Regions from separate parts of the Homo sapiens genome. Here all the other regions are linked to region 2. Evidence: fine-mapped expression QTL. A gene starts in region 2. Each other region holds a variant in brackets. All regions are shown on one strand. Distances are from middle to middle.

Region 1 (8,186 bases), 160 kb before region 2:
AAAAAAAAAAAAGAAAGAAAAGAAATCACTCAGCAAATATAAAGCTTTGCCTGTGTGACTTCCTTCGTAGAATAAAGACTTTACAACACTCCCTTTCATGGTCTCTCTCTGTTAAAGACTTGAATGCTTTCTGAAGCAAAGGTCAATGATATAAATGCAATGAAACCAAAAAAGAAAAAAAAAAGGCTGTGAACAGACCACTTATGCTTATCCATAGATTTGAAATGAAAGAACCAAAACCCACAGCTTCATAACTGGAGAATAAATGTGTAGAACTGGATTTTAAATAGAAATCAGACATCTGTACTATGAGATCAGCTAACAATTTAAGATAAAATTTGCTTATCTGGTCTTAATGACATGTTGCTAGTAAAGTACCAAGATAGCACAAAAATTATATCAGAAAAAAAAGAATATAGAATTATTCATAAACGAAGCATAAGCATTGTGGAGCTACGCTGCATTAAGTGTAACTATGCATATACTACACATTTCTTAAATTATCCCAAAAGGGATTCTCAGATTTTCTTGTGGTAGTAATGCTCAGTTATAGAACTTACATACTCATGGGTGTGAACAACTCCTGCAAGGTTTTAACACTTTAGAAAAAAGCATTTTTTAAGTGTATATAAATAAAAACATATTTTACAACACTAATAGTCATTACTTTTTCAAAAGAAAATTCACTGGTGTATCATCTCAAGATATGGTACATATCTATGTCACATGAATACAAGCCAAATTACCTTTTTAAAGACTCTGTTTAAGATGAGTGGGTGGAGAAGCTTCAGAATTTCCATTATTTTACAGTCACATTGATTAGGTGGGATGGGTATAATACAGGAAAGGAGTATCAGAGTTTATGGAAAAAACCAGCCCGAGGAAACAGAGTTTGGTTCATATTCCAGCTCTACTAGTGACTAGCTGGCACAAAGTATTCATTCTATCTTGGCCTCTGTATTCTCATTTGTTAAGTGAAGACAATTATACCAACCTTTGTAGTATATTAAAAATTGCATACACAATGCATTTAGCACAGTGTCTGGCACATACTCAGTACTCAAAAATGAAAGCAACTATGGACATGATGACAGTGATCCTAGATCTTAAATATTTTCTGAGAATTCTAAGGAAAGTAGGTTAGAATTCCCAGTTGGCAAAGACAGGGAAGACTAAGTTACTTACTTTTAAAATTTAAAATTTGTAAGTAATTTAAAATTTTAGAATTCTGTTAATAAAACTAAAAAAAAGCAAAACATTAAAGGATAATTACTAGTTTGTAGCAAAAATATGGCTAGAAAAAGAGAGCACATTATAAACACATGGTAGAAACAGTTTTGGGGGAAAAAATTTTAATCGAGAAGAGAAAGGATCTGCAAAATCCTACATTAGGTGGGATCAAAGCCAGCTGGACCTGACTTGCTTTTCTACCAACTAGTTAATGATTTATTTCTAAATTGTTAAATGTCTTGGCATGTTTTTTGTTATCAAGAAAGTCTATTTTCTTCCTAAGATTTACAAGATATAAAGTACGTGTGTATGTATATTTTTAGGTATCACATTATCAATTTTAACTCAAGCAGTTACAGAATAATTAAAAATTATACATAGTTCTTTCCTTTTTCTTTTTTTTGAGATGGAGTCTTGCTCTGTCACCCAGGTTGGAGTGGTGCAGTGGCACAATCTCGGCTTACTGCAACCTCCGCCTCCTGGGTTCAAGCGATTCTCCTGCCTCAGCCTCCCAAGTAGCTGGGACTACAGGCATGCACTATCACGCCCGGCTAATTTTTGTATTTTTAGCAGAAACAGAGTTTCGTCATGTTGGCCAGGCTGGTCTCGAACTCCTGACCTCAAGTGATCCACCCGCCTGGGCTTCCCCAAGTGCTGGGATTACAGGTGTGAGCCACTGCGCCCAGCCCATAGTTCTAATTAGAGAAAATTAATTCATTTGTGGTCATTTGGGAACTTTTGCTTTTCCCCTTTCCTTCTTCCTCAGACATTACACATGTTGACACTCTGACATGAAGACAATAAGAAACACAATTAAGAGATAATGAAATGTATCAATTTTCTTCTTCCTCCACTTTTAAAAATGAACTTAAAAATAACATTTTAAGCTATTTTTAAATAACTAAAAAACAATTTACTTTGGGAAGAGACTGAAACTAGTAATTAAAAGTCTGAAATCAGTAATACCAAACTGCTGATTATAAACTCGCTCAATATATTAAAATCGAACTTTAAAAGGTAGCTAGAAAAAGTTTTTCCAACTACAAAAAGGTTTTATATGGAAAAATAAAATAAAACGTTATTAAAAATTCTTAATTTCATGTCTGGGTCATGATTTTGTAGAGGTAAGAAAATAATAGTTTCTCCTCTTGTTAAAAGAAACTTAATAATTGGACTTTCTGGCAAAAGATTATCTGAATTTAGTGTTCCTCTGTCTTTCCACAGTTATGGAAAAGATCATTATGCAATAAGCGAGGCTTCTGGAGGAAAAAAAGGATAGCTTTATTGTTGAAAACATTGGGCTATTATGCTAAACATTCCTTGTATTTTTGAGGGCAAATAGTCTAAAATATGTTTAGAGGAAATCCATATTCAGACAGAAATTCTTGTCGTTGTTTTTTTTTTTTTTTTTTTTTTTTTTTCAGAGACAGAGGACAGTTTATTCCTCCAAACAAAAGCAGTAGCTAGAGTAGAGTATCAGCATTTACACCATGTCCCCAAACCTCAATTCCCAACGGTCATGCAACGAGGGCCAGTGATGCCTGCATATGAGGTGGGTTGTTACAGAAGAAGAACCCCAAACTCAGAGAATCCAAATCTTTTATAATGGACAGTGAGCTTACCTGATCTTTGCCCAGGAGGGAGACTTTATTTTTATTATATTGGACAGTGGCAAATCTGTTCTTTACTCCAGAGGAAGATATTAGCTCTATTTTCCAAGGCAGTTTGCTATGCAAATATCCTTGAATAAATAGTCCAGAACAAGGCAGTGCCTCTGCTTGCAAAAGCACAAGAGATCTTTAGAGAATTGTCTTGAAACAATAACCACCTCTCAATGATACAATCTCATAGCCTCTGAAAACTTTTCTCATGAGTACAACACTCCAGTCATGATGACTTTGTTTTGTTTTTTGTTTTTTGATACAGGGTCTCACTGTGTTGCCCAGGCTGGAGTGCAGTGGTGCGATCACAGCTCACTGCAGCCTCAACCTCCCTGGCTCAAGATATCCTCCCACCTCAATCTCTTGAGTGTGGAACTACAGGCATGTGCCACCATGCCTGGATAACTTTTTGAAATTTATTTTTTGTAGAGACAGGTTCACATTATATTGTCCAGGCTGGTCTCAAACTCCTGGGCTCAAGCAATCCTTCAGCCTTGTTCTCCCAAAGTGCTGGGATTACAGGTGTGAGTCACTGTGCCTGGCCCAGTCATGATGATTAATCTGAACAACAGAGCCAAATCCTGCCTGAGACACATTTTAAATAAACTTTTATTGGAACACAGGCTAGGTGCAGTGGCTCATGCCTGTAATCCCAGCACTTTGACAGGCCAAGGAAGGCAGATCACTTGAAGCCAGGAGTTCGAGACCAGCCTGGCTAACATGGCAAAACATCGTCTCTACTAAAAATACAAAAATTAATGGCATGGTGGCACACGGCTGTAATTCCAGCTACTCGGGAGGCTGAGGCATGAGACTTGCTTGAATCTGGGAGGCGGAGGTTGTTGCAGTGAGGCAAGATTGTGCCACTGCACTCCAGCCTGGGTGACAGAGTGAGACAGTCCCCAAAAAAATTTTTGGCTGGGTGCAGTGGCTCACATCTGTAATCCCAGCACTTTGGGAGGCCAAGGAGGATGGACCACCTGAGGTCAGGAGTTCAAGACCATCCTGGACAATATGGTGAAACCCGTCTCTACTAAAAATACAAAAATTAGCTAGGCGTGGTGGCACGCACCTGTAGTCCCAGCTACTCGGGAGGCTGAGGCAGGCGAATTGCTTGAACCTGGCAGGTGGAGGTTGCAGTGAGCTGAGATCGCATCACTGCACTCCAGCCTGGGCAACAGAGTGAGACTCCGTCTCAAAAAAAAAAAAAAGAAAAGTTTTATTGGAACACAGTCATTAATTTACGTATTGTCTATGGCTATTTTCACTCTTTAATGGTACAGTTCAGTATACCTTGACCATCCGCCCATTGCTGAGTAGCCTTTTTTGCTATTATTTTTAACTGACAAATAACAATTGTACATATTTATGGGGTACAGTGTGGTATGTCAATACAAAGCCTATATGTATACTTTCATATCTGTTAACCAACCTTTGGCTATCTTCCCCTCCCACCTTTTCTAC[C/T]TTTAATAACCACTATTCTACTTTCTACTTCTATGAGATCAACATTTTTAGTTCCCACATAAGTAGGAACATGCAGTATTTCTGCATCTGTCTGACTTCACTTAAGATAATGTTCTTCAAGTTCATCCATTGTGCCATGAATGATAGAATTTCATTCTTTTTTATGGCTAACTAGTGTTCCATTGCACACATTTTCTTTAGCCACTCTTCTGGTGATGGACACAGAGGTTGATTCTGTATCTTGGCTATTGTGAAGTGCTGCAATAAACATGGGCATGCAAATATCTCTTTGGCATACTAACTTCCTTTCCTATAGATATACACCCAGTAGAGGGATTGTTGGATCATATGATAGTTCTATTTTTAGTTTTCTGAGGAACTTCCATACTGTTTTTCATAATGGCTGTGCTAATTTACATTTCCACTAGAACAGTGTATAAGAGTCCCCTTTTCTCTGCATCTTTGCCAGCATGTATTCTTTGCCTTTTTGATAACAGACATTCTAATGGGGGTGAGATGACATCTCATTGTAGTTTTGATTTGTACTTCTCTGATGATTAGTGATGTTGAGTACTTTTCATTTGTATGTTTTTGTTTGAGAAATGTTAATTCAGCTCCTTTGCCCATTTTTAAAATTATTTGTTTACTGGTTGTTGAGGTGTTTGAAGATATCTGGATATTAGTCTCTTTCAGATGAATAGTTTGCAAATATCTTCTCCCATTCTGCATATTGTCTTTTCACTCTGTTGATTGCTGCCTTTGCTGTGCAAACGTTTTTTAACTGGATCCGATCCCATTTGTCTATTTTTGCTTTTATTGTCTGTGCTGATGAGGTCTTCACAAAATCTCTGCCCAGAGCACTGCCCTGAAACATTTCTTCTATGTTTTCTGCCAGTAGTTTCATAGTTTTCAGTCTTGCATTTAGTTCTTTAGTCAATTTGGAAACGATTTTTGTATATGGTGAGAGATAAAGGTCTAGTTTCATTTTTCTGCATATGGATATCCAGTTTCCCCAGCACCACTTATTGAAGAGACTGTCCCATTCTCAATGAATGTTTTTGGCACCTCTGAGAATCAAGTGGCTGTAAGTATGTGGATTCATTTCTAAATTCTTTATTCCATTCCATTAGTCTATGTGTCTGTTTTTATGCCAGTACCATGTTGTTTTGGTTACTAAAGTTTTGTAGTATATTTTGAAGTCCAGCAGTGTGTTGCCTCCAGCTTTGTTCTTTTTGCTCAGAATTTGAGTATTTGAGGTCCCCTGTGGTTCCATATGAATTTGATTGCATTTTTTTTTTTTTCTGAGATGGAGTCTTGCCCTGTCACCCGGGCTGGAGTGCAGTGGTGCAATCTCAACTCACTGCAACCTCCACCTCCCAGGTTCAAGCAATTCTCCTGCCTCAGCCTCCTGAGTAGCTGGGATTACAGGTGTGCACCACCATGCCTGGGTAATTTTTGTAATTTTAGTAGAAATGGGGTTTTGCCATGTTGGCCAGGCTGGTCTTGAACTCCTGACCTTAAGTGATCTGCCAGTCTCAGCCTCCCAAAGTGCTGGCATTACAGGTATAAGCCACTGTGCCCGGCCCTGTATTTTCTATTTCTGTGAAGAATGCCATAGATATTTTGATAGGGATAGCATTAAATCTGTAGATCACTTTTGGTAGTATGGTTATTTTCACAATATTAATTCTTCTTCTCCTTCTCCTTCCTCACCTTCTCCTTCTCCTTCTCCTCCTCCTCTTTTTTTGAGATGGAGTCTCACTCTGTCGCCAGGCTGGAGTGCAGTGATGCGATCTCAGCTCACTGCAACCTCCACCTCCCAGGTTCAAGTGATTTGCCTGCCTCAGCCTCCTGAATAGCTGGGACTATAGGTGCATGCTACCACGCCCAGCTAATTTTTGTATTTTTAGTAGAGACAGGTTTCACCATATTGGCCAAGATGGTCTTGATCTCTTTACCTGGTGATCCACCCACCTCGGCCTCCCAAGAACCCAGACCACAATATGAATTCTTTCAACCCATAAACATAGAATATCTTTTAATTTTTTAAATGTCCTAATCAATTTCCTTTCATCAGTGTTTTATAGTTTTCCTTGTAGAAATCTTTCATATTCTTGGATAAATTTATTCCTAAGTGTTTTTTTTTTTTTTTGGAGCTATTTTAAATAGGATTGGTTTTTTAAATTTCTTTTTCCACTATTTCACTGTTGCTGTGTAAAAACAGCACTGATTTTTTATGTTGATTTTGTGTCCTCCAACTTTACTGAATTCATTTATCAGTTCTAAGAGCTTTTTGGTGGAGCTTTTAGGGTTTTCTATATAAAAGATCATGTCATCTGCAAACAGACAATTTGATTTCCTCCTTTCCAATTTGGATGCCCTTTATTTCTTTCTCTTGCCTAATTGCTCTGGCTAGCACTTCTGGTATTATGTTGAATAGGAGTGGTGAAAGTGGGCATCCTTGTCTTTTTCCAGTTCTTAGGGGAAAGGCATTCACCTTTTCCCCACTCTGTATGATGCTGGCTGTTGGTTTGTCATATTGGCCTTTATTATTCTGAGGTACGTTTCTTCTGTCTATTTTTTGAGTGTTTTTATCACGAAGGAATGTTGAATTTTATCAAATGCTTTTTCTGCATCCACTGAGATGATCATGTGGTTACTGTCCTTCATTCTGTTGATTGATGTATCACGTTTATTGATTTGCATGTGTTGAACCACCCTTGCATCCCTAGTATAAATCCCACTTGATCATGGTGTATTTTCTTTTTAATGTGTTGTTGGATTTGGTTTGCAAGTATTCTGTTGGGGATTTATGAGCCTATGTTATTCAGGGATATGGGCCTGTAGTTTTCTTTTTTGTGTTGTGTCCTTGTCTGGTTTTGGTATCAGGGTGATGCTAGCCTTACAGAATGAGTTAGGGAGAATTCCCTTCTCTTTGATTTTTTGGAATAGTTTCAGGAGGATTAGTATTAGTTCTTCTTCATATGTTTGGTAGAATTTGGCTATGAATGCAACCAGTGGGCTTTTCTTTATTGGGAGGCTTTTTATTGCTGATTCAATCTCATTACCTGTTACTGGGCTGTCCAGGTTTTCCATTTCTTCCTGATTCAGTCTTGGTAGCTTGCATGTTTCCATACAAGCAGAATTTATCCATTTTCACTAGGTTTTCAGATTTCTTGGCATACAGTTGTTTGTAATAGCCTCTAATGATCCTTTGTATTTCTGTGGCATCAGTTGTAATGTCCTCTTTTTCATTTCTGATTTTATTTCTTTAGGTTTTTTCTCTTTTTTTCTTGGTTAGTCTAGCTGATGGTTTCTCAATTTTGTTTATCTTTTCAAAGCCAACTTTTTATTTAGCTGATTTCTTGTATTGCTTTTTAGTCTCAATTTTAAAATTTTTGCCCTAATCTTTATTATGTCTTTCCTTCTGCTAATTTTGAGTTTTGTTTTTTCTGGCTTTTCTAGTTCCTTAAGCTGGATCATTAGGTTGTTTATTTGAAATTTTGCTAGTTTTTTAATACAAGTGTTTATTGCTATAAAGTTTCCTTTTGATACTGTGTTTGCTCTATCCCATAGCATGGTATGGGATGTTGCGTTTCTATTTTCATTTGCTCCAAGAAATTTTAAAATTTCCTCATTGATCCAGTGGTCATTCAGGAGTATATTAATTTTTGTGTATTTGTATAGCTTTCCAAAGTTCCTCTAATTGTTGATTTCTAGTTTGATTCCATTACAGTCAGAAAAGATACCTGATATAATATTAATTCTTTTAAATTTGTTAAGACTTGTGTTGTAGTCTAACATGTGGTCTATCCTGGAGAATGTTCTATG
Region 2 (8,186 bases):
CAAATTAATGTGAAAAAGGAAAGTTAATTTCTTTCCAGACATATCACCTAGATCAGGTCTACACAAAAAGCAAGATCTCATCTTTCAACTTTGATAATGTAAGGTGAGTAAAATTGTAAGTGTCCAATATCAAATTTGGCAATAACATTCTTAGACAAATAAGCAATCTGATTTATTAGTAGAAGCAACCAAACCTTGCAATCACATCATCTGCTAACAGTTTTGATTTCTGGAACTGTGACTAGACTTCAAGATAATACGTTTCAAGCCAAAGTTTGGGCTAGAGAAGATTTATTAATCTGTATTAAAAATTTACCTAGCTGACAAAAAATAATCAGATGGCTAAAAGTTTTATCGACTTATCACGCAATAACAAGCCCCCTCCTTCCTCTAAATCCTAACAACCCTCTTATCTATACAACATTTCTTCAAAATCTCTACTTCTAAAAAATAATAATTTGCAACAAGACAAAGCAATTATCTTCTGTGGGCATCTGCATATTGTCACAATAGCTAGTTAATTAATACTGGTCAATTAAAAACACACACCAGGCTGGGCACAGTGGCTCACGCCTGTAATCACAGCACTTTGTGAGACTGAGGTGGGCTCGGCCGGATCACGAGGTCAGGAGATCGAGATCATCCTGGCTAACACAGTGAAACCCCATCTCTACTAAAAATACAAAAAATTCCCCTGGCATGGTGGTGGGTGCCTGTAGTCCCAGCTAGTCGGGAGGCTGAGGCAGGAGAATGGCGTGAACCCAGGAGGCGGAGCTTGCAGTGAGCCGAGATCACGCCACTGCACTCCAGCCGGGGCGAGAGAGCAAGACTCCATCTCAAAAAAGAAAAAAAAGAAAAAAAACCACACACCTGCTCCTGAAACATTTTTAACAGTGAAAAGTGTGGTGTGGCAAGCTTCCTCCATCACATCTACACATACATATATACACACATACATACACATGCTGACACACATCTATTGTAGAAATGCTTGTATTTAAGTGAGCTGAACTGTTATTCAAACGGCTACAAGGCAAATTTAGAATACTCATTAAAATATTATCAGGTTCCCATCATTCACAAATATCTAAGAGACATACTATAATATGCCAAATTCACATGTATACCTATGTAACAAACCTGCACGTTGTGCACATGTACCCTAGAACTTAAATTTAAAAAAAAAATGCCAAATTAATGTGCCCATGACACCGCTAAAGATTACGGAAGAAGCTTTTTCAGAGAGCACATCTAAAAAAATTCAGCCATGTCTCAGATTTATATATTCTCCTAACTCTTAATAAAAAAAATTTTCCCAACTCTTAGATTGCCTTTTAAACCACTCAATCCCTTGTAAGATTGAGCAGTTCACCTCTGATTATTCTGAAAAAGGCATTTTTTTCCCTAAAAAAGCAAGTCTCACTAACTGCAGAATGCACTATTTAAAAAACACCAATTTTTACTTTTCTGAACAGATCAACTAACTTTGGAGGGGGCCTTCTAAGGTAACAGGTCTAAACTGGACTCTTTTAGGCAGCCTCTAGAAATATCATACACTGGTTGCACAAACCTCAGGAAATGGGATTTCAATTCAACATGAGGAGCTTTTAAATCTCAGCGCTTTCCAACAATGGAATAGCTACCTCCAGAGTAGTGAGTTTCCCATTACCACGAACAGTCAAGGACAGTTGGACACAGAGGCAGAATGTGATAAATGAAAATACTTTGGAGGTTGGCCAGATGTTTTACTGATTCAGCCACTTCCTATGTGATTATGGGCATGTCCAACTAACTTTTAAGCTTCAGTTTTATCATCTGTAAAATGGAAGCCATCATCCAACTTGAAGGGTGAAACTCAGAAATATAGCAGGGACATGCTTAGCACAGTGTACAGTCTAGCGGGTAAAAACTCAAATGGTACTTTTTGTTAGTTTTACTACTATGAACACCTGGCAGTAAAGATTTCTGTGACACTAAGGGTGGAATGGACATGACCACTAACATCTCTTTTGACCCTATCATCTTATCACTAAGTTTCTCTTCAAAATACCTGGAAGAAAAACTCAAGGGCTCAAACTTACTAGGGGTTTAATTTTATAAAGAAGAGCACCTGTTTATTGGAGGCTCTAGTTTCCCAGTAGGTGCCTTATTCTACCCACATTCCCTGCTGTTTGGCCCCCTTACCCTACGTCCCTACCCCAGAGTTAACATTCAACTTGCCCTCTTGCCTTCAGTATCAATAATCACAAAGTGGGTCATGCAACAAAAAGACTCCTAAATTGGAAAATGAGAGCCTGGGTTTGGTCTCAGGTTCTGCCATTAACTCCCTATGTTACCTAGGCAACTCACATATTTATATTGGTTTTAAAGAAAAAGTACCACTGGTAAACATTATCTCATTTCATCTTCATAACCTCATGGAAGGTATCAGTAATGCCGCCCTTAACTAACATTAATGAGGAAATTTACGGCTCAAGAAGTGGAGTGGCCTTCCCAGAATGGCACAGGAAGTAGCAGGCTCAATATTTTGCCCAGTACCCATTCTCCCAAAACCTATACTCAGAGGTATTAGAGACAGGACCTTCTGGAAAACAGTGTAAATGTGTTTTCCCCTCCTCCTCTATCAGAACCTGGCCTAGTCAAGAGTGAAAGCAACATAATTGTTAGTGGTAGAGGGAAGGAGGCTTCATTTCCCCCTTTTCTTATCAAACAAAGAGCACAGAGGCGCTGAAAATGTATACACACCTATAAACTTACATATGCATAAAATGTATTCTGAATATTCAAGAAACTGATAACCCTGGTTGCCTCCAGAGAGAACTGGAGAGCTGCAGAATAGGAATGAGGGGTCCCTTTTTATTGTATACCTTTTAAAACTGAAAACCATGTTAAGTATAATATACTATCAAAAAATAGCCTTTAGTTTTAAGGTGAATTTTTTTAAAGCTTTGAAAGAATACAAATAATGTTTATAAAATATGTGTTCTGCAACTCCACTTGTTGCTGGGTGACCTTGGGCAAATCACTTCACCTGTCTCATGCCCTGTTTCCTCACTTGTAAAATACAGCCAAGAGCATTACCTACAAGGGTTTTTATGAGGGTTAAACAAGACAGTGCAAGTAAAGCGTTTAGCACAGTACTCGGCACGCTGTAAGCCTACAGTAAATGTCAGTTACCATTATTACTTAGCATTAATATTGTTATCTTTGCTTTACTTCAAGCAGCACCCCACATACACACCTGTTTTCATGGCATACCCACAATTATGGCGCAGTATAGCGCTTTGTACTTCATAAACCACCTCATCACACTTCATCGTCTTTCAAACGTTTGGTAGCCCTGGGACATCACTGTTAACTCATTTCGCAGCTAAGGAAATGGAGGCAGTAGGAGGCAGTAACTCCAAAACCCTGTTTTCCCGTCTCTAAAATCCAGATCCCATCAACCCATTCGTTGCTCCCAGGTCCCTTGCTCTCGGAATCGTGTTCCGCGCGGCACTGACCTGAGCGAGCGCCCCGGGGCCCGGGACCTCGCGCCGGGTTCACAGCTACTAGGCACGCTCGGACCGCCAGAGCCTTGCAGCGGCCGGGTCCGCTCCGCAGCCATGGCGCCTGCAGGGAAAGAAAAACAGCCAAGGCGCGGCGGGTCAGCAGAGCCGCGGGCGCCTAAGAGTCCCCTCCCCGACCGGCCCCGCCTCGCATACAGACCCGGACCTGCGGCCGCTGCTCCCGGTCCGCAGCCTCACAGGGGAGCGGCTTCCGGTGCTGCCTGCGTCATCTCCGCGCGTCCCTCAGCTCCGCGGCTCCCGGCGGAAGCGGCTGCACTTCCGGTCCCCGCCCGGAGGTGGGTGGTGGGAGGCTGGAGGCCGGGAGTAGGGGTGGGGAGAAGAGCGTCCCGGGAAGCTGAACGCGTGCCGCGCGGCCCTCACGGTGCTTAGGCTGGGTGCAACCTAGAACGGAGGTTCCTTTCGTACCGTACATCCAGGTTTGCACAGCGCGCTTATGTCCCTCCTCCAATCTGATCTTGCACCAGCTCTGCAGTAGTTTTTCTTATTATCCTCATTTTACGGAGGAGAGGGAGCTGTGGCTTAGAGAAGTTAAGAGACGTGTCCAAATTCATACAACCTGTTGGGCACCTCTTTATCCCGAACGCTGTTCTAGGGGATAGGGTTAGTGAACAAAAAACGCAAAAGCCCCTGACCGCCTGGGCCTTACATCTATTAGGAGGAGGAAGACAGATAAACTAAGGCTCGTGCAAAGGAGAAAAATAAAGCAAGGTAAGGAGGTTGTTGAATGAAAAGAGACAGTCAAGTGATGTAGATTTGAATGAATCACAACGTTTACACTCTGGCTGTGGCCCGGTTACTTAACCTCTCAGACTTTGCTTCATCTGCATAGCAATTATAGTGAGGTCCCCATCCGAAGGCTCTGAGGATTGAAGGAAATGAAGCATGCAAACCTTTTGGCGTCAAGAACTAAAACTGAGCTAAAAAATCCCACGCACTCTTTCTCAACATTTTTTGTGTACCATCTCACTCAGTTCCCACAACAACCCCACAAGCTAGTAACTATTATTAGGCCCCTTTTTAGAGATGGGGAAACTGAAATCAAAAGAGGTTTAGGCATCTTGCCTAAGGTCATAGTAAATGGCTGTCATAGGATTTCAACCCAAACCGACTTCAGAGCACAAGTTATCCTTTTTTTTTTTTTGAGGCAACGTATCACTCTGTCGCCCAGGCTGGAGTACAGTGACACGATCTTGGCTCACTGCAGCCTCGACTTCTCCAGGCTCAAGCGATCCTCCCACCTCAGCCTCCTGAGTAGAAGGGACCACAGGCGCGTGTCACCATGCCCAGCTAGTTGTGTGTGTGTGTGTGTGTGTGTGTGTGTGTGTGTGTGTGTATTTTTGTAGAGTCAGGGTTTCGCTATGTTACCCAGGCTGGTCTTGAACTCCTAGGCTCAAGTGATCCACCTGCCTGGGCCTCCCAAAAAGTGCTGGGATTACAGGGGTGAACCACAATGCCCAGCGCACAAGTTATCCTTGTTTCTCTGTAAGGGTTCCTAAGCCATACATGCATACACGCACATTCACATACATCTTATACCAACACTGTCCAATAAGCTTTTTGCCAGTGATGGAGTTGTTCTGTTGGTGCTGTCCAATAAGGCAGTCACTAGTCTCTTGTGGCTACTGAACATTTGAAAAGTACCTGATGTAAATGAACTAAATTCTTAATTTTATTTAATTTTAATTTAATAGCCACATGAGGCTAATGGCTACCATGCTTGATAGCACAGTCCAATAATATAGACAATAAGAGAGACACATATCCAGTAGATGGTAGAGCATGGCCAAGGTTCCAAGCATCCTGACTTCATTTAGGGTACTTGAAACATGGGAAATAAAAATTGATTATGTGGGGTGGAAGTCAACTACGGTGTCCTAAAAGTAAGGTCTCAAGAGAGCAAATTTGATTTGCTAAGCAACAGGATGTCACTCTAGACTTCTAAGTCAGAACGTGACTGATCACAGCATTATAAGACATTTAGGAAGACAGATATACAGATTGGATACTCTCTATGAAAGGGAAGGCAGTACCAGGGTAATCAAGAAAATCAAGCACCCATATCTCTTTGGAGCAAACATTCTCAACCCCAGTACAGTTTGATGAATCAAATTGAAAAGTCCAGATGGAGCTGCCCCAGAGATAATATTGTTTGGACCTCTCATAACAAAGAAACCAAATTGTGCAAATTTAAGCCCAGAGGGGATCCAGGAGCAAAATTCATGACTATAAAAAAATTTTTAAATTGCAAAGTGGACGTAATATTTAATTAAATACAAGACCTATTGAATTGTTAAATTCAGAATATGTAAAAATTCCCTTTCATTTGATATTTTTAGGTTAGATTTTTCCCACTTTGTAAAGATTTTCAAGATTGTATGATGGTTGCTGAGAAAACATAGCCAACTTTAAATATAAGAAGTTATTCCTGGCCAAATAATTACAAAAGCTGTTGTAAATGGCAGATAGGAAGATCAACATGTTGGATGTTGAAGGAAAGGACGAAATATAGCCTGGCATGAGAAAAGAATGCTCAGTATAATTGCTTGTGTGACAGGAACATGAAAATATGCTGAATGTTGTTTCTTTTCTCGAAATAAACTTGCTGGTAGAAATGATGTTTGGGATAATTCCTACACATGCATACTCCAGGAAAGGAGAAAACATCAAATGTTTAGTTTCTTCAATTCCGGCTAAAGTGGACTGTATGTTGTCTTCCATTTTGAGCTAAACTTGCCTGGGGAGGTAGTTTAGATGACTTAAAATTGATTTAGTAAAGTGCTTGCATAGCCAATACTAGGGATTCTGAATCCTTCCCAATGAGCCATACACCAGACCTCACCATATGATGTTTCTTTGGGAGAAAATAATGCACCCACTAGGGATGAAAAATCTTCCTCTATGTCTAGTACAGTTTTTGCATGTGTATGTACCAGGGAGCAGGCATTACTCCAGCTGTTTGGTTTCTTGAGATGCACTCCAAAAAAAAGTATAGGATATATCTACTTGTGCAATGATGCTATGGAGAAGTGATCTGGGTAACTGTTCTTTGAACTTCCACACACACTTTACCAGGAACTCAGCATAAAGACATGGGGTCAGTTTCATGAAGTACACAGGGTTGGAAGCATTTGAAGAGGTTTGCTTTGTCTGTTCTTTGTTCTGGATTCACTCTAGCTGTAACATGATCAGCACCCACTCTCCTATGCAGTCAGCAGGTATTCTAGGATAAAAGCTCAGGTTGATTGGCAAGAAACCTTATCCTCAAAAGTTGAGGCACAAAGTACTTTACTGCAATTGCTGTTAGACTAGAGTGATCCTGAGATGCGTTTGGGCATAATTGGCACCTGGACTCAATAATTTCTAAGACCCTGAAGTTGCTCACAGGCAACATGCAAGTAAGTTTCTTACAATCTTTAAAGCATTTGATATCTAGTAAAATAGGCTTTGAGGAAGCTGAAATTTTTTTCTATGTGTAAATGAGAAAATGGAAAGGAGTTCAGATTATAATTGCTGGGTTTTTTTTGTTTTGTTGTGTTTTTTGACTGTTTAAAGGACATGGGGGCCAGGTGCGGTGGCTCACGCCTGTCATCTCAGCACTTTGGGAGGCCGAGGCAAGCGGATCACCTGAGGTCAGGAGTTCAAGACCAGCCTAGCCAATATGGTGAAACTCCGTCTCTACTACAAATACAAAAATTAGCTGGGAGTGGTGGTGCATGCCTGTAATCCCAGCTACTTGGGAGGCTGAGGCAGGAAAATCACTTGAACCTGGGAGGCGGAGGTTGCAGTGAGCCAAGATCATGCCACTGCAGTCCAGCCTGCGCCACAGAGTGAGACTCTGTCTCAAAAATAAAGAGAAAGAGAGAGAGCAAGGAAGAAGGGAGGGAGGGAGGGAGGGGGAGACAGAGGGAAAGAGAGAAAGAAAGAGAAAGAAAGAAAAGAAAGAAAGAGAAAGAAAGAGATAAGTAAAGATAGGAATTGTGATTCTCCAATGGTTAAGAGCGAGCTTTGGGGCTGGGCACGGTGGCTCTCACCTGTAATCCCAGCACTTTGGAAGGCCGAGGCAGGTGGATCACCTGAGATCAGGAGTTTGAAACCAGCCTGGCCAACATTGCAAAACCCCATCTCTACTAAAAATACCAAAATTAGCCAGGCGTGGTGGCAGACGCCTGAAATCCCAGCTACTCAGGAGGCTGAGGCATGAGAATCCCTTGAACCCAGGAGGCAGAGGTTGCAGTGAGCCAAGATCGCACCACTGCACTCCAGCCTGGGTGACAGAGCGAGACTCCGTCTCAAAAAAAAAAAAAAAGAATGAGCTTTGGAATATGACAGATTTGAGTTCAAATCATGCCCTATCCCAACCTCTTACCCACTGTGATCCTGGGCAAATTACTAAACCATTAAGCTACTCAGATGCTCAGCTTAATTACGAAAATAACATATCTGAAAGGGATATTACCAGGGCTAAATGAATTAAGACACATAAAAGTGCTTATCGCAATGCCTGGCACAAAAGCAAGTGCATAATAGGAGGTAACAGTTATTATGGGAGGCTTTATTGATTGAAGATCCAATGAAAAGGGATTTAATTCATTTAATGTTCCCTGGCTCTGTTATACT
Region 3 (8,186 bases), 52 kb before region 2:
GTCACAAGGAGGAACAGAATCCAGGCTTCCTCACTAAGGAGCAGGCTGGGGATCACTGCCACCCTACAACTACTGTGGGTTCTAGGAGAGGGCCCGCTCAGGAGAAAGGAAGGCTCCCCTCCCACGTGACGAGGGGAAGCTGAAGTCACTGTTGCCTTCCCTAGATTTTGAAGGTCCTGACTCCCTAGGTCCCCAGGGAGTGGGTCATAGCTAGGCTGTATAATGGTGACGAGAATTGTGGACCCAAGTCATCCTGGTGGCTGTGGAACCAGTTGTTCATGAAGATAGTGGGTGAACTGTTGTGATGAGTACCTTCCAAACTTCCTGTGTGTGGTGCTGGGGTCTCTTGCCAACGTCCAATACCTAGGACAAATGCTGACTTCTCAGAGTGCCACCTGGCACTGTACTTTCCAGAGTAGTCATTGCAACTACATTCAACAGCAGTAACTGTGAATCCATTCAATTGAACCAATAATGTGAAACTGTTATTTATTTATTTATTTATAAGATGGAGTCTCACTCTATTGCCCAGGCTGCAGTGCAGCGGTGCCATATTGGCTCATCGAAACCCGGGTTTTGAGCAATTCTCCTGCCTCAGCCTCCCAAGTAATTGGGATTACAGGTGTCTGCCACAACGCTCAACTAATTTTTGTATCTTTAGTAGAGACGGGGTTTCACATGTTGGCCAGGCTGGTCTCCAACTCCTGACCTCAAGTGATCCACCTGCCTCGGCCTCCCAAAGTGCTAGGATAAAGATGAAACCCACCACGCCCAGCCTGAAACTGTTTTTTAAAAGTATCCTTCCTGCCTGTAATCCCAGTACTTTGAGAGGCCAAGGGGGTGGATCACATGAGGCCAGGAGTTCGAGACCAGCTTGGCCAACATGGTGAAACCCTGTCTCCACTAATACAAAATTAGCTGGGCGTAGTGGCGTGCACCTGTAGTCCCAGCTACTCAGGAGGCTGAGGCAGGAGAATCACTTGGACCTGGGAGGCGGAGGTTGCAGTGAGCCATGATCACGCTACTGCACTCCAGCCTAGGCAACAGAGTGAGACCCTGTCTTAAAAAATAGAATAAAAATGGCCAGGCGCGGTGGCTCATGCCTGTAATCCCAGCACTTTGGGAGGCCGAGGCGGGCGGATCACGAGGTCAGGAGATCGAGACCATCCTGGCTAACATGGTGAAACCCCATCTCTACTCAAAATACGAAAAAAGAAAAAAAAAATTAGCCGGCCGTGGTGGCGGGCGCCTGTTGTCCCAGCTGCTCGGCAGGCTGAGGCAGGAGAACGGCGTGAACACAGGAGGCGGAGGTTGCAGTGAGCTGAGATCGCACCACTGCACTCCAGCCTGGGCGACAGAGTGAGACTCCGTCTCAAAAAAAAAAAGAATAAAAATAAAAAAATAAAAGTATGCTTCTTATTGTCATGATCATGTAAACCACAATCATTGCCATTAAAAGTACACAATGTAGCAAAACCAGTGATAACCTGTAGCCTTCAAAGTATTATTAATAAGAGAAATTTATCCTCAATGGAGCATGTTGGTTGGCAGCTTATTTTTTTGGATACTTATAGTTGTGATGTTTACGTTGTGATTTTGTATTTTGTATCGACCATAAATTATATTTTTTTATTTCTAAACCTTGTAAACAAAAAATATACTAACACAGAATTTTGTTAAAGTTTATATGAAGGAATATAAAAAAAAAACATTTTCTAGTATTCAGGAAAGTATATAGTAGCTTCCCAGTCCTCTGCTACCAGCTTCCAATCAGCTCCACAAACTGTGAAACTGTCCCTAAAATGTCCCCAGTCTTAGGGAGAAGTTTGAGATTATTAGGGTCACAGCTACACTGCTGTAACAAAGAGGCCCCAAAATATCGTGGGTGCAAAAACATCAAAATTAATTTTTCTCTTACAAAACAAAACAACCAGGCTGGATTGGTCAAGTGATGCCGCCATAAACAGATACAGTTTCAGCCAGGAGCGGTGGCACATGCCTGTAATCCCAGCACTTTGGGAGGCCGAGGCAGGTGGATCACCTGAGGTCAGGAGTTCAAGGCCAGCCTGGCCAATATGGCGAAACCCCGTCTCTACTAAAAATACAAAAATTAGCAGGGCGTGGTGGCGGACACCTGTAATCCCAGCTACTCGGGAGGCTGAGGCAGGGAGAATTGCTTGAACCCAGGAGGCGGAGGTTGCAGTGAGTCAAGATGATGCCACTGGGCTACAGAGCAAGACTCTGTCAAAAAAACAAAAAACAAAAAACAGGTAGTTTCCCTGTTGGTCTCCATCCCCTAAGGTGTCATTATTTGCTTAATCAAGGCTGGGTTGCTAACTCTGGGAAAGGAGGAAGAACCAACATTCCAGATAAGGAGCTTAAATCTGGAGATGACCCAGAAAATGTTCACATCACTTCCTTTCAATATTTGGTTAGTCCACACTTAACCACATGGTCACATCCAGCTGCACAGGAGTCTAGGAAATGTAGCCTGTAGCTGGGCAACTGTGCCCAGGAAGAGGGGAAGAATTTGGAGGAATAAGTAGCCATCTGCTACAGAGATTCTTTTTAATTTAAAAAATTTACAACATAAAAGAATTATATTACAATCCCATCATACAACTACTGACATTTTTCTATTGTTCTTTCCACATTTGAAACATGTGTGTTCCATGTATTTTTATAAAGTTGTAAAAATAGTATGTATGCAATTTTACATTCTACCAGAAATAAAACAGTATAATGAAAATAACATTAGATTCAAACAATGATATGCTATTTTTTTACCTATGACATTGGCAAGGTCTTTTAAAAAACCACAATAACCAGTGTTGGAGAGATCATGGGGAAATAGCCACTCAAACGTTACTCATGAGAGTGTACACATGTGTAACTTCACTTGGAGGGCAATTTGGTGATACATTTAAAAGTTTTGGCCAGGTTTGGTGGTGTACACCTGTATCCCCAGCTACACGGGGAGGCTAAAGCGGGAGGATGGTTTGAGCCCAGGAGTTTGAGGCTGCAGTGAGCTACGATCGCACGACTGCACTCCAGCCTGGGTAATGGAGGGAGACACTGTCTCAAAAAAAAAAAAAAAAAATTTACAATTTAACCTAAGGGGAAAAATGTAGAGATGTGGGTACAGATTTGTATAAAGGCTGGTTGTCGAAGCCTTACTTATGCTAAAAAATAGAACTAACCTAAATATCCAATGGGGATTGTTTAAATGAATTATGATTCAACCTTCCACAGAGATTAGAATCATGCTCTTGAAGAACACTGATGATGTAAAAAGTCTGCTAACATATTAAGTGAGAAAGCACATTACAAAATGGAATATATGTTCTGATAATTTTTGGTAAAAATTATCCATAGCTGTAAAGAGGACTAGAAGAATATTCACCCAAATGTCAACAGTGGTTCTTCTGGGTGAGTGCTATTGACAGCGGTTTTTACTTCCTTATTTACTCCTTTTGATATTTTTCAAATATTTGGCAATAGACATGTATTAGTTTTACAATAAAGGGGTTATTTAAAACACTGAATTAGACATACAGAATCCTAATACATTAGAGCAGAAATGATCCTTGAACTCCTTCATGTTTCAAATGGGGAAACTGAGGTCCAGAGAGGGTGAGTGACTTGCTAAAGTAACACAACTAGTTAGAA[T/C]TGAGATTTGAACTGAAGTAGTTTGTCTTCAAGGCTGGTGTTCTTATCACTATATAACTAAAAAAAAAAACAAAAAAAAACACCTTTTTTTTTCTTTTTCTTTTTGTAGTCAATGTTCTGCTGAATAAAAAGAACTTTTCTAAAAACAGCTTGACTCCTGGCAGCTTAGTCAGTGTTGAGGTACACAAAAAAACAAAGTGTCTGTAAGTCCTTGGAGAACTTAAAACAAAACAACTTAAAACATACACACACAACAAATTTCTGGTACATCCAGTGCTTATAAGGAAATATACATTGGGAAAACAAACATTCACACTGATAGAAACAGGATATGAGTGTCTCATTCATTCATTCAAAAAATATTTGTTGCGCACCTACTACATGCTGTTTTTAACACACTAGATCCTGGTAATCAATGGTAAACAGACATGATTCTCACTCTTCTGGTGCTTACAGTATTTAAATTCTGCTAATGTTTGTTGAACATCTACTATACACTTTACATATTTTTAAAGTTTTTTTCAATATAGAGATGGGGGTCTCACTATGTTGCCCATGCTGGTCTCAAACTCCTGGGCTCAAGTAATCCTCCTGCCTTGGCCTCCCAAAGTGCTGGGATTACAGGCATGAGTCACGACACCTGGCCAACGCTATACATTTTTTACAAACCTTTGTCATTGTACTATACCAATAATATTAACCCCCACTTTATGAGTTATAATTTAGCTACTAAGCATTGTAACTAGGCACTATTTCTAATCTTACAACAGCCCTATGAGATAGGTATCATTAACTCTATTTCACAGATGAGAGAACTAGAATCATAGATATTAAGTGGATTTCCCAAGATTACACAGACTAAGTGACAGATCTGTTTTCTAATGCTCATCTCATTGCCCTTAAACATAGGGTCCTCTTCCCACAACTGTAGCCTCAACCTCGAGCACCCACTCATTACAGAGGTTAAATAAAGGGCTAGGACTTAATGAATTTAGACCATTTCAGACTTATTGAACTTATTGGGATGGAGCCCAGGAATCTGCTATTCTTTTATTATTATTATTATTATTTATTTATTTATTTATTTGAGACGGAGTCTCGCTCTGTCGCCAGGCTGGAATGCAGTGGCGGATCTCACTGCAACTTCTGCCTCCCAGGTTCAAGCGATTCTCCTGCCTCAGCCTCCTGAGTAGCTGGGATTACAGGCATGCGCCACCATGCCCAGCTAATTTTTGTATTTTTAGTAGAGATGGGGTTTCACCATGTTGGCCAGGATGGTCTCGATCTCTTGACCTCGTGATCTGCCCGCTTCAGCTTCCCAGAGTGCTGGGATTACAGGCATGAGCAACTGCGCCCAGCCAAATCTGTCATTCTTGATAAGATCACTCTATAACTTGTATCTGTGCTAAAGTTCAGGGGCCACCGCCCTTATCTGTAACCTGGAATCCTACAATTCAATCTCCCATTAGAGAATGTATCCTTAGGTCTCAGGTGGAATGTACCAATTCTCAAATTCCACTAGGGGACAGTATAGGCCAATATGTCTAGACAAGTGGCACACTGTGGAAGACTGTGGAATCAATCACTGATGACATTCATTCATCCCTGGACCAACAGCGAGGGCTTGTCGGCTGCCAGGCACTGGGCTGAGCAAAGGTGGATGATTTCTGTAATGCTATTTACAAACTTAGAAAGCTGCTTTGGGGCCAGATGCGGTGGCTCAGGTCTGTAATCCCAGCACTTTGGGAGGCCGAGGTGGGTGGATCACCTGAAGTCAGGAGTTTGAGATTAGCCTGGCCAACATAGTGAGACCCCCATCTCTATATTGAAAAAACTTTTTAAAAATGTATAATGTATAGTAGATATCCAACAAACATCAGCAGAATTTAAATACTGTAAACACCAGAAGAGTGAGAATCATGTCTGTTTACCATGAATTACCAGGATCTAGTGTGTTGAAAACAGCATGTAGTAGATACGCAACAAATATTTTTTGAATGAATGAATCAATGAAGTACTCATATCTTGTTTCTATCAATGTGAATGTTTGTTTTCCAGTGAGCCGAGATCGTGCCACTGCACTCCAGCCTGGGCAACAGAGTGAGACTCCATTTCAAAAAAAAAAAAAAAGAAAGAAGGCTGCTGTGGAGTAATGTGGTATGTTGAAAAGCAGGACCACGGTGTTTTGTGGTTTCTCCCATCAAAAGGTAGATCTATTTCCTCACGCCTTGATTCTGGACTTGCTTTGACCAAGAGAACATGGTAGAAGTGACTTGCAGAGTTCCAGAGCCTAGACCTCAAGGTCTCACTGCTTCTCCCTTTGCTTTCTTGGGAGGCTTCTGGCATTGAGTTCAGAAGCCTAGGTTGAAAGGCCATGCAGAGAAGCCCAGCTGTCCCAGCTGAGGCCCCAGCCTCGTGGATAAAGCTGTCTTAGCCCACATATTCCCGGACCAGCCACCAGTGATTGTAAGCTGCCTGGTGAGCCCAGCAGACCCAGTCAACCCGCCAAATTGTGAAAAATAACAAATCATTATTTTAAGCCACTAAGTTTCAGAGTAGATTATTACACAGTAATAGATAACTGATAGACGCGGCCATGCACAGGGGATTTTTTAAATTAATTTAGCAATTCTTTAACTGAGTGCCTGCTTTGTACCAAGTATTGTATTATCTCACGTGTTAGGGATCTGTGCCTTGTGGAACAAGATAGAAAAAGCCCCCAGCCTCATATGGGCGAAGACGCACAATAAATTAGTAAATGGATAGATATACGGGGCAGTATAATACCATATGGAATAAGGGCTGTGAAGAAAAACAAAGTATGGAGTTCAAGAATGATTGAGGGTCGAGATCAGGTTCTTATAGACAGAGTGGTCATGGAAATCTTCTCTAGAAAGGTGAAATTTGAGGATAGCTGTGAGTACTGAGAAGGAGCAAAACCTGTGAAGATCCAGGAGAAACACTTCCATTTCAGGCAAATGGAACAATATCTAAAAAACTCCAAAGCGGGAAACATCTTAGTATACGCAGAGTACAGCCTGAAGGCCAGTGGGATTTGTTAAATGCAATGTTAAATGCAAATTAATACAAATTTGTTAAATGCAACTGTCAAATGTGAATTAATGGTTTAACTTGTTAGGCCGGGCATGATGGGTCATGCCTCTAATCCCAGCACTTTGGGAGACTGAGGGGGGCAGATCATGAGGTTAGGAGTTGGAGACCAGCCTGACCAACATGGTAAAACCCTGTCTCTACTAAAAATACAAAAATTAGCTGAGCGTGGTGGTGCGCACCCATAGTCCCAGCTACTCAGCAGGCTGAGGCAGGAGAATCGCCTGAACCTGGGAGGTGGAGGTTGCAGTGAGCCAAGGTAGTGCCACTGTACTCCAGGCTGGGTGACAGAGTGAGACTTCGTCACAAAAAAAAAAAAAAAAAAAAAAAAAAGTTTAACTTGTTAAACTGGTGTAAGATACCATTTTAACTTATTTAGGATTCCCTATACTTCAATTTTCTTAACACTAAGAACAGGGTCATGTCAGTCACTCACATTCACTGAATGCTAACTCAAATGAATATCATTCTAAACTATTTGTCAAAATATGTTTAAAAGTTCTTTATTTTTCTGGCTTTTGAATCAGTAAACTATTTTACACTTTTCTGTAGCTCTTATTGCCTTTAGTGTTACGATGCTCAGAATCTAATCTTCAGATCTAGACTACCTCATCAAAGAACACTACGGGAGAAAATATTTGCAAACTATACATCTGACAAAGGTCTAATATCCAGAATGTACAAAAAACTTAAACAACTGTGCATGCAAAAAACAAACAACCCCATTAAAAAGTGGGCAAAGAGTATGAACAGACACTTTCAAAAGAAGACACACATGCGGCCAACAGGCATATGAAAAAATGCTCAGTATCACTGATTGTTAGAGAAATGCAAATCAAAACCACAGCAAGATACCATGTCACACAGGTCAGAATGGCTATTATTAAAAAGTCAAGACCAGGCGCAGTGGCTCACACTTGTGATCCCAGCACTTTGGGAGTCCGAGGCGGGTGGATTACCTGAGGTCAGGAGTTCCAGACCAGCCTGGCCAAAGTGGTGAAACCCTGTCTCTACTAAAAATACAAAAATTAGCTGGGCAGGGTGGCGGCCGCCTGTAATCCCAGCTACTCGGGAGGCTGAGGCAGGAGGATTGCTTGAACCTGGGAGGCAGAGGTTGCAGTGGGCTGACATTGCACAATTGCACTCGAGCCTGGGCGACAAGAGCCAAACTCTGTCTTAAAAAAAAAAAAGTCAAAAAATAACAGATGCTGGCCAGGTTGCAGAGAAAAGAAAGCACTTATACGCTGCTGGTGGGAGTGCAAATTAGTTCAACCATTGTGGAAAGCAGTGTGGCAATTCCTCAAAGAACTAAAACCACAGCTACCATTTCACCTGGCAATCCCACAGCTGGATAGATATCTAAAGGAATATAAATTGTTCTACCATAAAGATAAATGCATATGTAT

What was found. PIP is the estimated chance that this variant, and not a neighbour inherited with it, causes the effect.
Region 1: its variant is the best candidate, but not a certain one, in a credible set for the expression of FBXW2 in whole blood (TOPMed, PIP 0.64).
Region 3: its variant is the best candidate, but not a certain one, in a credible set for the expression of FBXW2 in whole blood (TOPMed, PIP 0.71).

What each region holds. Positions count from the first base shown.
Region 1 is chr9:120,625,845-120,634,030 of GRCh38, forward strand. All of the region lies in intron 2 of MEGF9 (multiple EGF like domains 9), which reads right to left. Among named protein-coding and RNA genes, the nearest start is that of CDK5RAP2, 50 kb to the left of the region's middle. The variant C/T (reference allele first, on the strand shown) is at 4,356.
Region 2 is chr9:120,789,646-120,797,831 of GRCh38, forward strand. It overlaps FBXW2 (F-box and WD repeat domain containing 2), which reads right to left and starts at 3,771. Exons shown (of 8, transcript NM_012164.4): 1 at 3,709-3,771; 2 at 3,504-3,612. It overlaps B3GALT9 (beta-1,3-galactosyltransferase 9), which reads left to right and starts at 3,822. Exons shown (of 3, transcript NM_001386823.1): 1 at 3,822-4,277; 2 at 6,778-6,964. The coding sequence starts at 6,959. RefSeq lists enhancers at 3,472-4,102, 4,165-4,264, 4,695-4,784.
Region 3 is chr9:120,737,940-120,746,125 of GRCh38, forward strand. No RefSeq gene overlaps it. Among named protein-coding and RNA genes, the nearest start is that of MEGF9, 28 kb to the left of the region's middle. The variant T/C (reference allele first, on the strand shown) is at 3,670.